Linked DNA regions of Homo sapiens. The protein of the gene in region 1 interacts with the protein of each later gene in a biochemical or structural test. Each region holds a gene or a part of one and is shown in the gene's direction. Other genes may lie near its edges.

Region 1 (6,872 bases):
GCAGTCCCATCATGAAAACACCCAGGTGGCAGCCCAGTCACCCGAATCACAGGCCAAGGACATCAGAGAATCAACAGGCTTCTCGGAGTCAGGCTTGTAAACCTGGAGCCCATTGGTCCTTCTGCACCGTGAGATGCGAAAGTGAGCAGCGTGTGAAAAGCCTTAGGGTCTGCACATTGGCTTGACATGTTTTCCACCAACATGTGCAAAATCTGAATTAGTACGTGTAGCTGGTGAGTGTGAGAGAAGTAGGAGGGGAGGGAGAACTAGAGGGGATTTGGAGTTGACAGAGGGAGAAGGAGAGAGAAGTGGATGGAGTAACGTGACCTGAGTGGAGGGACACCGAGTCCCTGAGGTGTGGGTGCAAAGGGCCCTGTGAGGGGCCGGGAGGGAGTGAGTGCTGACAGTTGTTGAGGCGTGGAGTGTATGGGGATGTACTAATAGACACAGTGAAGCTTCCCTTTGCTAGCCAAGCACCGCAGAGGCCATCCCTCCAAGCAGAGGGTTGCAGCAAGCTCTATTCTCTCCCGCTCAGGAGCGGGAAGCCGCCGGGTGTTTCGGGGTCCCGCTAGGAAAGGGGACAGCGGAACCTGGTTCAGGCAGCCGGCGGCGGCGCGGGACGAGCTGAGTGGTTCTAGCGAAGCGCTGCCTGCCTCAGAGCAGCCGCGACGCTTCCCTAGTAGAGCTGGGCCGCCGGAAGCCCGAGGCGCGGGCGGCTTCTGCCGCTGTTGCAGGATTCCCGGCCCTGGGGAGAAAAGCGTCTGTATCAGAGCCGTGTAGATTGCTCGCGCCGGCTGTCGGGACCTCCGAGGCGCGGGGCCAGGCTGCGAGGAGGCGCGGGAGCTGAGACTGCGCTCAATCGGCGGTTCACTGGAACCGTATCCGCAGGCGGCGCTACGGTGGGACCACGGTCAGGAGGCGCCGGTGGCTGCTGAATTGCAGCTGCGGGACCCTGGAAAACTGGGGCAAAGAGGCAGTGAGTTCTGCCCAGCCCACCACCCTGGCCTTTGGAGGTGAGCGCCGCCCCAAGGTCACTAAGCCGGGGGCCCTGCGTCGCCCCAATGCCGCGGGGAGAAAAGGAACCGGCCCTGGCGTCCACAAAACCTAGGCACAGTATGCCCTGTTCAGAGAGGATCCCGACCTCGCCAGCAACCAGCCTACCTCCGAAGGTTGAGAAGTAAATCAGGGCGCCCCGCACCGTTTCCTGGAGCGCCCGGTTCACCCACCTCTGGCTGGGCCGGCAAGGAGAGGATTCTGTTCTCTCCCTAGATTCCTCTATCTCCAGCCCGAAGCCCCTGGCTTTTCCGCAGAAGCCTGGAGGGGACCTGAAAGTAATCATTCTGCCAGCTTTCCCGCCCGCATTTTCTTGCCTGTTTTCTGAGCCTTCGAATGCCGGACAGCCATGTGAAGGCACATCTTGGGGAGACCGATTCCAGCCCTTCCCAGGGTGCACGCATCAGGCATCCTCTTCTTCACCAGGGCTGGGGATTCTGTTCCTCTACGGGACAGTCAGAAATCAGTATTTTCAGAGCAGAACTCCTTTCTATTCTGAAAATCCTTCAGAGGAACTCCTTCATTTGCCCCCAACCCCTACACACACACACACACACACACACACGCACATGCATACACACACAGGCTCTTTAAAGGCTGAAAAGGGAGCCGAGTGTGGAATTCAGGGAAGTGATGACACACACAACAATGCTGTTACACCTGGCTGCTGCAGGGCTGAGCAGCGGAAATGCCTGTGAGAAGAAGAAAGAAAGACAGAGAGACGCAGAGAGCCAGCCTGGGTGGTCAAGAAAAAAAAAAAGGAGAGAAAAGGAGAGAGGAGCCCCCACCAGGATGGGGCCAGACCCAGCTGTTTTTCCCCCTGCCCAGGCCCTGGCTGGGGGAGGATAGGCACTGAGGCCAATCTGCAGCAGCCCCAAACCGGACTCACCACTCCCACCCAAAGCTTGGGCAAGGATGGGGGTAAGGAAGAAGAAAAACATCTGCACTCCTGCTCAGAAAGCAGCAGCAGGGATTCTGCGGAAGTGCTGCTTCCCCCATGTCTGTTGGGTGCAGTGGGAGACCGCCCATAAAAAAAACCAAGCTACTTTGGGGATAGCCTTGCTCCCTCTCATCCTTGTGACCAGGCAAGGGCTGCCCTGCTGACCTCTCTGGTGTCATCTTCAAGATGCTGAATTCCAAAGAGCCCTACCACCCTTGTCCTCCCTCCCTTTCATCTCAGAATGCAGATCAGAGGCCTGAGTGAGCAGCAGACAACACTTGTAGATGGCCTGTGGATGCTGGAACCACAGGCCGCTGAAGGCTCCTTGGGCTTCAGGAGAACCCTCAGAGTCTAAACAGCCTGGGAGGAAGAGGCAGTGACAGGCATTGAGTCAGCCACTCCAGACATGCCAATCACTAATGCACAGCTATATGACATCCATTCAGTCCACCTTCCTCCATAAGGTGGCCTTGCCCCCCTCCTCAGCACCAAGGAGTTTGGGGCTTGAGGATTCAAAACACTGGCCATCTCTCTCATACTTTATGACTGCAGACTTTTTGTTTAGGCCAAGTTAAAAGGCACTGTTAAGGAGCACACTGTTAAAAGGCACACCTGATTTTCCCTGAAACAATCTCTGTACATGCTGAAATAATTGGATTCCCATCAGAATTCTGCTTAAGGTAGGTGACAACTAACTCCTGATTCTTTGGAGAAAGATCAGAACAAATGTCTCATCAGGAGAGAGATTTGAACAAGTCCCTCCCTCAGCCTGATGTTTGTCTTCCCAGTCTGTGGCAAAATACATACACTGGGAGGGAAAGAGGCATCGAAGAATTGTGAAAGAAAGGAAGAAAGGGGGGAAGGAAAGAAGTAAGAAAGGAGAAAAAGAGAAGATGCTATATCCACCAGCTACATTTACTCTAATACTTGATGAACATATTACATAACTATCAGTATAAGTGTGTTTTACCTCGTAAATACAAATCTCACACCTTGTACATGTGCATACCTGTGTTTCTGAGCAGCACACATGCACCTGGTATCTCACCCATCTCAAGGACAGCTCCTCTCCATGACTTCCATATGTGACCCCTGTGCACACACATACACAGTCCCGCAAAGTCCCGGGCAACAGCCCCGCCTGTGTTAGTGCAATAGCTGAGGGGCATCTACTTGGTGCTGTTAAAGCACACATCCAACCTTCACTCCAACCCCGTAGGATTAGTACACGGATTCCTGGTTCCTAGATCCACTGGTAACGCAGGGAGAGGCAGAGGTGATTCAGGCGGCGCCCCTGACGACTATTTCCAGAGATCCTCTCCCCTGCCCCATTCCAGCCCAGTCACTCTGAGAGCGCGAGGGACAGGCCAGGCCGAGGCTTCTTCGTACAGTCACACCCGTTTCTGGGCTGACTTTCCCAAAGCCTCAGAGCAGCTCTCCCCACCCTACCCCGTCCAGCCCCCTCGCCGTCTCGCCCCTCCCCAGCCCCGAGCTAGAAGTTCAGCCTCAAGACGGCAGCAAACGGCAGAGCAAAGGAGTCGTTTTCTTTCACCTGAAAGCCGCGAGGAGGCTTGGAGCGCCTTTCCTCGCTGGGGCCCGAGCTTCCTGGGCTTTGGCCGGGTGCGGGCAGACCCCACCGGGGTCCTCGTCATCTCCCAGCCCAGCCCGCAGAGCGAGTACCGGCAGATTTCAAGGGCGCGTGAGCCTGGCTGTCGGCTGGGCCCCTGAGGCTCGCTGGGCGGGGGCAGGCCGGTCCAGGCTGTGCGGGGCGTTTACAAAAAGTGACTTGGAGATGAACTCGCCCGTGCGCGGCTGGCCGCCCCGCTATAGGGGCGAAGGCGCCTGACGCAAGCGGAACTCGGTGGAGCCCATACGAATCAGAACAGAGCGAGGCTCCTGGCGCACTAGGGACTCCAGGAGGCAGCTCCGCCAGAGACGCGGGTCGTGCTTCGGGAAACCGGGGGGCGGGGGGAGGGGAAGAGCGCAGAAAAGAAAACCCACCAAGGCGGGGACTGGCCTGAGCGGGGAGGGGCGGCGAGGCCGGAGCCCCTCTCTGTTGGGCGGACTCCCCATGGCCAGAGGCTGAGCTCCACTCCCGCCGGCCGCTCCCTAGGGGAAGGGGAAGGAGAGGGGAGAGCAGCGACAGGCCTCCAGCAAGCAAGCGCGGGCGGCATCCGCAGTCTCCAGAAGTTTGAGACTTGGCCGTAAGCGGACTCGTGCGCCCCAACTCTTTGCCGCGCCAGCGCCTGGAGCGGAGAGCAGAGGCGGCCCGGCCGCGGCGCGCCGGCTTTGTCATGATGGCCAGCTACCCCGAGCCCGAGGACGCGGCGGGGGCCCTGCTGGCCCCAGAGACCGGTCGCACAGTCAAGGAGCCAGAAGGGCCGCCGCCGAGCCCAGGCAAGGGCGGTGGGGGTGGCGGCGGGACAGCCCCGGAGAAGCCGGACCCGGCGCAGAAGCCCCCGTACTCGTACGTGGCGCTCATCGCCATGGCGATCCGCGAGAGCGCGGAGAAGAGGCTCACGCTGTCCGGCATCTACCAGTACATCATCGCGAAGTTCCCGTTCTACGAGAAGAATAAGAAGGGCTGGCAAAATAGCATCCGCCACAACCTCAGCCTCAACGAGTGCTTCATCAAGGTGCCGCGCGAGGGCGGCGGCGAGCGCAAGGGCAACTACTGGACGCTGGACCCGGCCTGCGAAGACATGTTCGAGAAGGGCAACTACCGGCGCCGCCGCCGCATGAAGAGGCCCTTCCGGCCGCCGCCCGCGCACTTCCAGCCCGGCAAGGGGCTCTTCGGGGCCGGAGGCGCCGCAGGCGGGTGCGGCGTGGCGGGCGCCGGGGCCGACGGCTACGGCTACCTGGCGCCCCCCAAGTACCTGCAGTCTGGCTTCCTCAACAACTCGTGGCCGCTACCGCAGCCTCCCTCACCCATGCCCTATGCCTCCTGCCAGATGGCGGCAGCCGCAGCGGCTGCAGCAGCTGCGGCTGCAGCCGCGGGCCCCGGTAGCCCTGGCGCGGCCGCTGTGGTCAAGGGGCTGGCGGGCCCGGCCGCCTCGTACGGGCCGTACACACGCGTGCAGAGCATGGCGCTGCCCCCCGGCGTAGTGAACTCGTACAATGGCCTGGGAGGCCCGCCGGCCGCACCCCCGCCTCCGCCGCACCCCCACCCGCATCCGCACGCACACCATCTGCACGCGGCCGCCGCACCGCCGCCTGCCCCACCGCACCACGGGGCCGCCGCGCCGCCGCCGGGCCAGCTCAGCCCTGCCAGCCCAGCCACCGCCGCGCCCCCGGCGCCCGCGCCCACCAGTGCGCCGGGCCTGCAGTTCGCTTGTGCCCGGCAGCCCGAGCTCGCCATGATGCATTGCTCTTACTGGGACCACGACAGCAAGACCGGCGCGCTGCATTCGCGCCTCGATCTCTGAGAGCCCACCGCATGCCGGTGCAGACGGATGCGAGGATGCAGGGACGCGCGACGCCGGCCCCGGTCGCAGCCGACGACGCCGCCGCCAGCCTGACCTCACACCCTCTGGGCCCGCCTCTGGAGCCAGCGCCCAGGGTCCCTCTGTGCTTTTTCGCTTTCCTAAGCTCCTGTCGCTCCTCTTTGTCCCCTCAGTTTATGTCCTCCTGTGCTCACCTCCCTGACCTCTGTGACCTTGCACTCCCCTGGCCTGAAGCTGCCTCTCTGCGCGCTTTCTACTGGGCTCGTCTCTTTCCGGAGCCCCAGCGTCTCCTGCCCAAATTCACCGCGGAAAGGGCCCGGGGCGGAGGTGCGACCGGGCGTCGGCAGCGCAGACCTCTTGGCCTTCTCTCACAGGTCGGTGCGCTCGCTCTCCGCGTTCCCCGCCCGACTGCCGTGCAGTCCATGGCTAGACGCGCCGGACAGGACTGATGGCGGGACCGCGCTGCCCGAGAAAGGGACGGACCAATACGTGTGTTTGCTCCGCGAACCCTCTTGAAGCTGTTCAGAAGCCGCTTGCCGCGGGGCCCACTAGGCGGGGCGGGGGTTGGGACCCAGCGGGAGCCGGGGCAGCCTGGCTCCACGGCCTGTACTCGGTTTACACCGCGGGCGGGCGCGGAGGGAGGCTGCGTTTCCTCCGCTATCAGTCCCGTCGCTTCGGGCACCTCCGGGCCCCGGCGGCTGGCTAATGTTTTGTTTGAAAGATCGGTGGAACTTTTTAAGAGAGTATTTAAAAAAAAAAAAAGGAAAAAAAATTCACCGGGCAACCGGGGAAGTATTGTGGCCTTGGAGTTTGCTAAATCCAAATATGAAAATCAAAAGCTTTAGTATTCCTCATCTTCTCTTCTGGAAGATTTGCGTTAGAGTTTTTGTTGGGCCTTCAAAAAGCTGTGTTCAGAGTTAGGAGAATATATCCAATAAAAGATGGTTTCGTCTACCAATTGGGGAAGTTTCACCCTCTCCCTATCTGAAGAAAAAAATCAAAAACAAATGTCCCCGGATCTTTCGATGCAAGTCCTGGAGGCAGGGAGATCACTGCCTGCCTGGCCCACGCTGCTGGGACGGCTCGTCCTCCCTGCTTTTTGTTTTTCAAACCTCCTGCTTCTCCCACCTTGGGAAGGAGAAATGTGAAACCCGGCAGCGGCCGACCTAGGCGGTCTTGTGGCCCGGAGCCGGCCCGGCCCGAAAACCATAGACCTGGTTGTACTGTAGCTTGTTGTTTGGGGGACCAAATTTTCTAGAGAGAACTAGAGCACTTTTGTTGTGTTTTTTTGTTTTGTTTTTGTTTTTTGCCTTGTCGATTCCCGAATAAATTTTGTGTTCCTTCTTTTAACACGGACTTCTTTATTTCTGTCGCTCCTTAGTTCAGCAGCTAGTTAAAAGAGGAAGATTTTCAGCAAAATTTTATCTTTTTCAGAA
Region 2 (7,027 bases), on another chromosome or scaffold:
CCAGCCTGCGACAGTGAGACTCTGTCTCAAAAATAAATAAAGAAATAAAGAAATAATAAATAAATAAATAAAAAATAGTACATCTACATGATGAAATTCAATATCGGTATTTAAAGGAATAAGGTTGAACTATCATACTTTATCAATTCTGAAATACCACTAAATCTAAGATAAGCCATCTATTTAGTAGCAATTTTTTAGCAGGAAGAAAGTAAACATAAAGCTTTTATTAATAATAGCATACATTTATTCATTCAATTGTATACCATTTTCGTCTGTCACAATAAAGTTTGAGTCTCAGCCTTATTCACATTCAGAATCTAGGATCCTTCTGAATTACTTCGGTTAGTTAATGCAACATCATGATAACAGGCTGCTTTTCATAATGCTAGTTAATTATCTTAACCTATATTGTCTTTATGATTGTGTGTATAATTTTAAGGTATATTGAAGAATACTGGGGTTTTGCTTGCCTTTCATTTTTGCTTACTTAGTTTTTTTTTCTTCTTCTTAATTGAATTACCTATTGCTGGAAATTAAACAGCTTCTTCTGAAGATAACTCCAAAAGTTTTGGCAGACTTTTGAGTCTGTCTTACCTTTGAAAATTCTGTGATCTTGCTTGAATTTAATAATTACTTATGCCTTTAATTGCATTGTCTATTGAATGACAGTTTGAGTGCACAATACTATGTCACAATGGAATCTTTCAGAACATTTTGTGGACCAGGCATGGTATCATCCCAGTATTTTGGGAGGCTGAGGCAGGAGGAACACTTGAATTCAGGAGTTTGAGACCAGCCTGGGCAACCTAGCAAGATCTCCATCTGTATTTACAAAAATAATAATAGCTGGGCGTGGTAGCTCATGCTTGTAATCCCAGCACTTTGGGAGGCTGAGGTGTGTGGATCACATGAGGTCAGGAGTTCAAGACCAACCTGGCCAACGTGGCAAACCCCTGTCTCTACTAAAAATACAAAAATTAGCCAGGTGTGGTGGTGGGTACCTGTAGTCCCAGCTACTCCGGAGGCTGAGGCATGAGAATCACTTGAACTTGGAAAGCAGAGGTTGCAGTGAGCCAGAATACGACACTGCACTCCAGCCTGAGTGAGACAGTCTCACAAAAAAAAAAAAGTAATAATGATAAAAGAAAAAAAGAGGCCGTGCGCAGTGGTTCATGCCTATATAATCCCAGCACTTCGGGAGGCCGAGGCAGGTGGATCACCTGAGGTTAGGAGTTCAAGACCACCCTGGCCAACATGGTGAAACCCCATCTCTACTAAAAATACAAAAATTAGCCACACATGGTGGCACATGCCTGTAATTCCAGCTACTTGGGAGGCTGAGGCAGGAGAATTGCTTGAACCCGGGAGGCAGAGGTTGCAGTCAGCTGAGATCACGCCATTGCACTCCAACCTGGGCAACAAGAGAGAAACTCCTTCTCAAAAAAACAAAAACAAAACAGAAAAAAAGAAAAAACATTTTGAGCATCATATATGGTGCTGCCAATGAAAATATTACAATTGTCCGGGTATGGTGGCTCACACCTGTAATCGCAGCACTTTGAGAGGCCAAGGCGGGTGGATCACCCGAGGTCAGGCATTCGAGACCAGCCTAGGCAACATGGAGAAACCCCGTCTCTACTAAAAATACAAAAAATTAGCCGGGTGTGGTGGTGGGCTCCTGTAATCCCAGCTACTTGGGAGGCTGAGGCAGAAGAATTGCTTGAACCCGGGAGGCAGAGGTTGCAGTGAGCCGAGATGGCACCATTGCACTCCAGCCTGGGCAACAGAGGGAGACTCTGTCTCAAAAAAAAAAAAAGAAAATAATACAATTGAGGTAACAGAGATTTCGACTTTTATGTATGGTTAAGTTAGGCATGTGCAATGACTGCTACTCTAGAACTTCTCTGCTTTGGAGGGGAGATTGGACCTTGATTTATTTGGAAGGAACTCTCATCCATTGTTTTCATTATCATACTCGGCCACCTGTGAAGTGTGTGTTGGGTGAGTATTCTCTCTTTGGAAGGTACACATCTTTCTCAGCTAGCTTATTGCTCATAGAAGTTGGGGGCCCAAGGGTTGATCTTAAGATATACTCAATTTATTTATTTATTTATTTTTTCTGGGACAGAGTTTTGCTCTGATGCCCGGGCTGGAGTGTAGTGGCACAATCACAGCTCACTGCAGCCTCGACCTCCTGGGCTCAATTGATCCACCCACCTCAGTCTCTCCAGTAGCTGGGACTGCAGGTGCACACCAACATAATTGGCTGATTTTTTCTATTTTTTGTAGAGTTAGGGTCTCACTTTGTTTCCCAGGCTAGTCTCAAACACCTGGGCTCAAGAGATCCGCCCACCTCAGCCTCCAAAAGTTTTGGAATTACAGGCATGAGCCACTGCACCCGGCCCTAACTTTTAGAAATATTAAAATGTAGAAAAGCATGCTTAGAATCAAACAAACATGATACTGGCCGGGCATGGTGGCTCACACCTGTAATCCCAGCACTTTGGGAGGCTAAGGTGGGAGGATCGCTTGAGGCCAGGAGTTTGAGACCAGCCTCGTCAACATAGCGAGACCCTCATCTCTATTCAAAAAGAAAAGAGAGAATAGAAGATAAAATATGGCTGGGCGCAGTGGCTCACACCTGTAATCCCAGCACTTTGGGAGGCCAAGGTGGGCGGTCACCTGAGGTCGGGAGTTCGAGACCAGCCTGACCAACATGGAGAAACTCCGTCTCTACTAAAAATAGAAAATTAACCGGGTGTGGTGGCACATGGCCTGTAATCCCAGCTGCTTGGGAGGCTGAGGCAGGAGAATTGCTTGAACCCGGGAGGTGGAGGTTGCGGTGAGCCAAGATCGCGCCATTGCACTCCAGCCTGGGCAACGAGCGAAACTCCATCTATAAATAAATAAATAAATAAATAAAAGAAACATGACACCTAACTGTGGAAAGATGTTCACGGTATTATGTTATTCTTTTGCTAAGAAATTGGGCCCTGATTAGTGACAGAGGCAAGATTCATGGGTCCTATTATCCACATGCCCAATAATCTCTTAATCAGGTCCAGATATGGTTCCTCTTGGTCCAGGGACCTGTGAAGTAATGTGTCCTGTGTGCTGCGTGTGTGCGCACTCTCTCTCTCTCTGTCACTCACTGTGTCTCCTCTCTATCTCCCTTCCTTTTCTTTTCCCCTTACTCACTCACCGCAGTACACAAGGGCCACAGTAAGCGCTCTTCCTAGAAAAAGAGAATAATGGGAGATAAGCAGCAAATGCTGATCTATAATCTGAAATCTCCTAGGCAGATTCTGTGTAAGCAACCGGGCCTGGAGGTAGGGGAGATTGGACCCTGATTTATTTGGAAGGAACTCTCCCATCCATTGTTTTAATGATCATCCTTGACCACCTGTGAAGTGTGTGTTGTACCTTCCCTTTGGAACGTACAAATCTTTTTCAACTAGCTTCTTGCTCATAGAAGTCGGGGACCCAAGGGTTTTAAATTTTGAATAGACAAGAAGATTTTTTTAGTATGAACTTGAGATGATTTAAGAAAAAAAAATTTCATTTTGTTTTTTGAGATGGAGTCTCACCCTGTCACCCAGGCTAGAGTGCAGTGGCACAATCTCCGCTCACTGCAACCTCCGCCTCCCAGGTTCAAGCAATTCTTCTGCCTCAGCCTCCTGAGTAGCTGGGACTACAGGCACATGCCACCACGCCCAGCTAATTTTTGTATTTTTTAGTAGAGATGAGGTTTCACCTTATTGGCCAGGCTGGTCTCAAACTCCTGACCTCGTGATCCGCCTGTCTCGGCCTCCCAAAGTGCTGGAATTACAGGTGTGAGGCACCGTGCCCGGCCAAAAGATATTTTTTTTTTTTTTAACAAAACAGTTTCTTTAAAGTTAGTAAGCCTCTTCCGATCTGTTTGGTTTCCTTCAGTTCTATGTGTCAGTAACCACAGTCGAAGTTCACATGTATTGGTAAACTCATCCAAAGATTTAAGAGCGTCTATTCCTCCTCCTCTCATTTGGTTGTTTGAGGCTATTAGGTTTGATGGGAAGGCTACGTCTTTAATATGGTCTTAACCACAGAAGCACTAGTTAGCTAAGGGGTTTCAGTGGGCATCTGTGCTCAGTCTTTTAATCCTGCCTCTAGGGGTCTAGGTACAAGCTGCTTTTCCAATCCTTCAAGGCTTTAAATTTCTGAACTTTTTCTATTCTCTTCTGTTTTTGCTTTCAAATCTACTACTTCCTTCTTGAACTCATCATTTACTTATAATACTTGCCAAATATCTAATAGCAGCCAATACTCACTTCCAAAATCCTCTTTACCAAACTCCTATAACACTACAAGGTCAGTAGCCTCTTTGTATGTTCACTGACCTTGTAGTTGTATGAAAAGTTATTATAGGCAACAGCGTTACCAGATATTTTGCCACTATAAAACATGATCCTCCATCTTTCCAGCCTCCGGTATCTGTTTCCTCTCAGCCCTTAATCTGACCACTAAGGCAGTATCACTAAGGCAGGACTGCATAGGTTTTTATTGTAGCAGCACCTCACTTCCAGGTACCAGTTTTCTGTATTAGGATAATGAAACACTGAATATACAGATGGACAATGGCCAGATCATATATAAAACTAGAACTCTGACCCATGACCTATGTAGCAATAGGCCCAGTCAGGACTTGGTCAGTAATTACCAGCTTCCCTAATTTTTGTGCCTTCTTCCAATTCGGGACGACTCAGAGAAAGCCAAATATGCTTCCCAAATCAACCACATAGGATACCCCGCTTCCAGTGTCGACGAAGAGTCAAACTCTGTAAAATATTTTAAGAGATCTATTCTAAGCCAAATATGAATGGCTATTGCCCCATGACACAGCCCTCAGGAGCTCCTGAGAACATGTGCCCAAGGTGATCAGACTACAGCTTGGTTTTATACATTTTAGGGAGACATAAGACATCAATCAGTATATGTAAGATGTACATTGGTTAGGTCCAGAAAGGAAGACACCTTGAAGCAGATGGCTTCCAGGTCATAGGTAGATTCACAGATTTTCTGATTGGCAGTTGGTCGAAAGAGTTGTTACTGTCTAAAGACCTAGAATCAATAGAAGGGAGTATCTAGGTTAAGATAAGGGGTTGTGGGCAGGCACAGTGGCTCACGCCTGTAATCCCAACACCTTGGGAGGCCGAGGCAGGTGGATCACGAGGTCAGGAGTTCAAGACCAGCTTGGCCAACATAGTGAAACCCCATCTCTACTAAAAATACAAAAATTAGCGAGGCATGGTAGCGCACGCCTGTAATCCCAGCTACTCAGGAGGCTGAGGCAGGAGAATCACTTGAAACCGGGAGGCGGAGATTGTGGTGAGCCAAGATCAAGCCACTGCATTCCAACCTGGGCAACAGAGTGAGACTCCATCTAAAAAAAAAAAAAAAAAAAAAAAAAAGATAAGGGGTTGTGGAGACCAGGGTTCCCATTATGCAGATAGAATCAATAGGAAGGAATGTCTGAGCCAAGGTAAGGGGTTGTGGAGACCAAAGTTCCCATTATGTAAAGGAAGCCTCCAGGTGGCAGGCTTCAGAGATAATACATTGTAAATGTTTCTTATCAGGGTTGATTCTCTCCTGGATCAGGCAAAAGGCCTGAGAAAGGAAGGGAATTAACTTCAGAATGTAGATTTTCCGCACAAGAGACAGCTTTGCAGGACTGTTTGAAGATATGGCAAAGAAACATAATTTGGGGTCAAATACTTGGATTTCTTTCAGGGCCTGCCATCTGTCATGTGATACTATGCTAGAGTCAGGCTGGAATTGGGTATCTTATTGCTACAGAGAGTCTGTTTTGTCAGTCTTAAGATTTGTTTTAATGTTAGTGCTGGTCAGCTGTGCCTGAATTCCAACAGGGAGGAGGGAATAATGAGGTATGGCCAAACTCCGCTTCCCATCATGGCTGGAACTAGTTTTTCAGGTTAACTTTCAAATGCTCTTGGCTGGGAGGAGGGGTTCATTCAGATGGTTGAAGGACTTAGAATTTTATTTTTGGTTTACATCAGTTAGCCCACCTCCAGTTTCCCATGCCAACAACCTACAATCAGAGCATACCTGATGTCTTCCCCCTTTTTTTAGTATAAAGATTTCCCACTCCCCTGCTTGCCTTTGAATCTTTGCCAAGCACAAGTTGACAGTGGCTGACTCCCTACCTATATAGTAAGATCTAATTAAATAGCCTTTGTTTGTTTCCATTTGGGCAGTCTTTGTCTATTTTCACAATGTTATTAGGCTGTTTTGTGGTAACAAATCCCCAAATATCAATGGCTTAACACAACAGAAATGTTTCTCTTGCTCAGAGTTCAGTGGGAGTCAGTAGGGTTCTCCATCCAGTGGCTTAGGGATCCACCTTCCTTCCATATTGTCAAGCCACCATCTCAGAATGTAACCTACATTGTCATTAAAGCAGGAAAACCGAAGCAAAGTGACTTTTAACTGCCTCAGTCCAGAATTGAGATATGTTACATCTGCTCATCCAGCTTTGGCCAAATCTGGGAAATGGAGTCGAGTACTGTATGTGAATATAGTCTCTGCCAGAATATATTTACCAAAAGCAATTGGCTAAAGATATACACAATTCCTCCATTTCAGCGTTTTTGAGATCAGAAGATTTAGATTATCTTACAATTGAAATTTTTTTTTTTTTTTTTTTTGAGATCCAGTCTCGCTCTGTCGCCCAGGCTGGAGTGCAGTGGTGCAGTCTCGGCTCACTGCAACCTCTGCCTCTGTGGTTCAAGCGATTCTCCTGCCTCAGCCTTCCGAGTAGCTGGGACTACAGGTGCCTGCCACCACGCTCGGCTAATTTTTGTGTTTTTAGTAGAGACGGGGTTTCACCATATTGACCAGGGTGGTCTTGTACAATTAAAATTGAAATGAATATTCAAATGTAATGCTTCTGTTATTTCCCCTGATAAATGAAGTGACATTGTTTCATGGAAATAATAGTTTCTTTAAAATGAATCCTGTGTATTTTAAT

Evidence for each region. Proteins that work in one complex are often made in the same cells at the same time.
Region 2: of the proteins of FOXL2 (region 1) and LATS1, one has a biochemical effect on the other in vitro, tested with the Homo sapiens proteins (one study listed by BioGRID).

What each region holds. Positions count from the first base shown.
Region 1 is NC_000003.12:138,944,138-138,951,009, reverse strand, and holds FOXL2 (forkhead box protein L2), read left to right. Parts: upstream 1-3,872; 5' UTR 3,873-4,287; coding exon 4,288-5,418; 3' UTR 5,419-6,786; downstream 6,787-6,872. Other genes in the region: FOXL2NB (FOXL2 neighbor protein), read right to left, coding at 767-1,339. UniProt on the Homo sapiens protein: Transcriptional regulator. Critical factor essential for ovary differentiation and maintenance, and repression of the genetic program for somatic testis determination.
Region 2 is NC_000006.12:149,708,092-149,715,118, reverse strand, and holds part of LATS1 (serine/threonine-protein kinase LATS1), read left to right. Parts: intron 1-7,027. UniProt on the Homo sapiens protein: Negative regulator of YAP1 in the Hippo signaling pathway that plays a pivotal role in organ size control and tumor suppression by restricting proliferation and promoting apoptosis.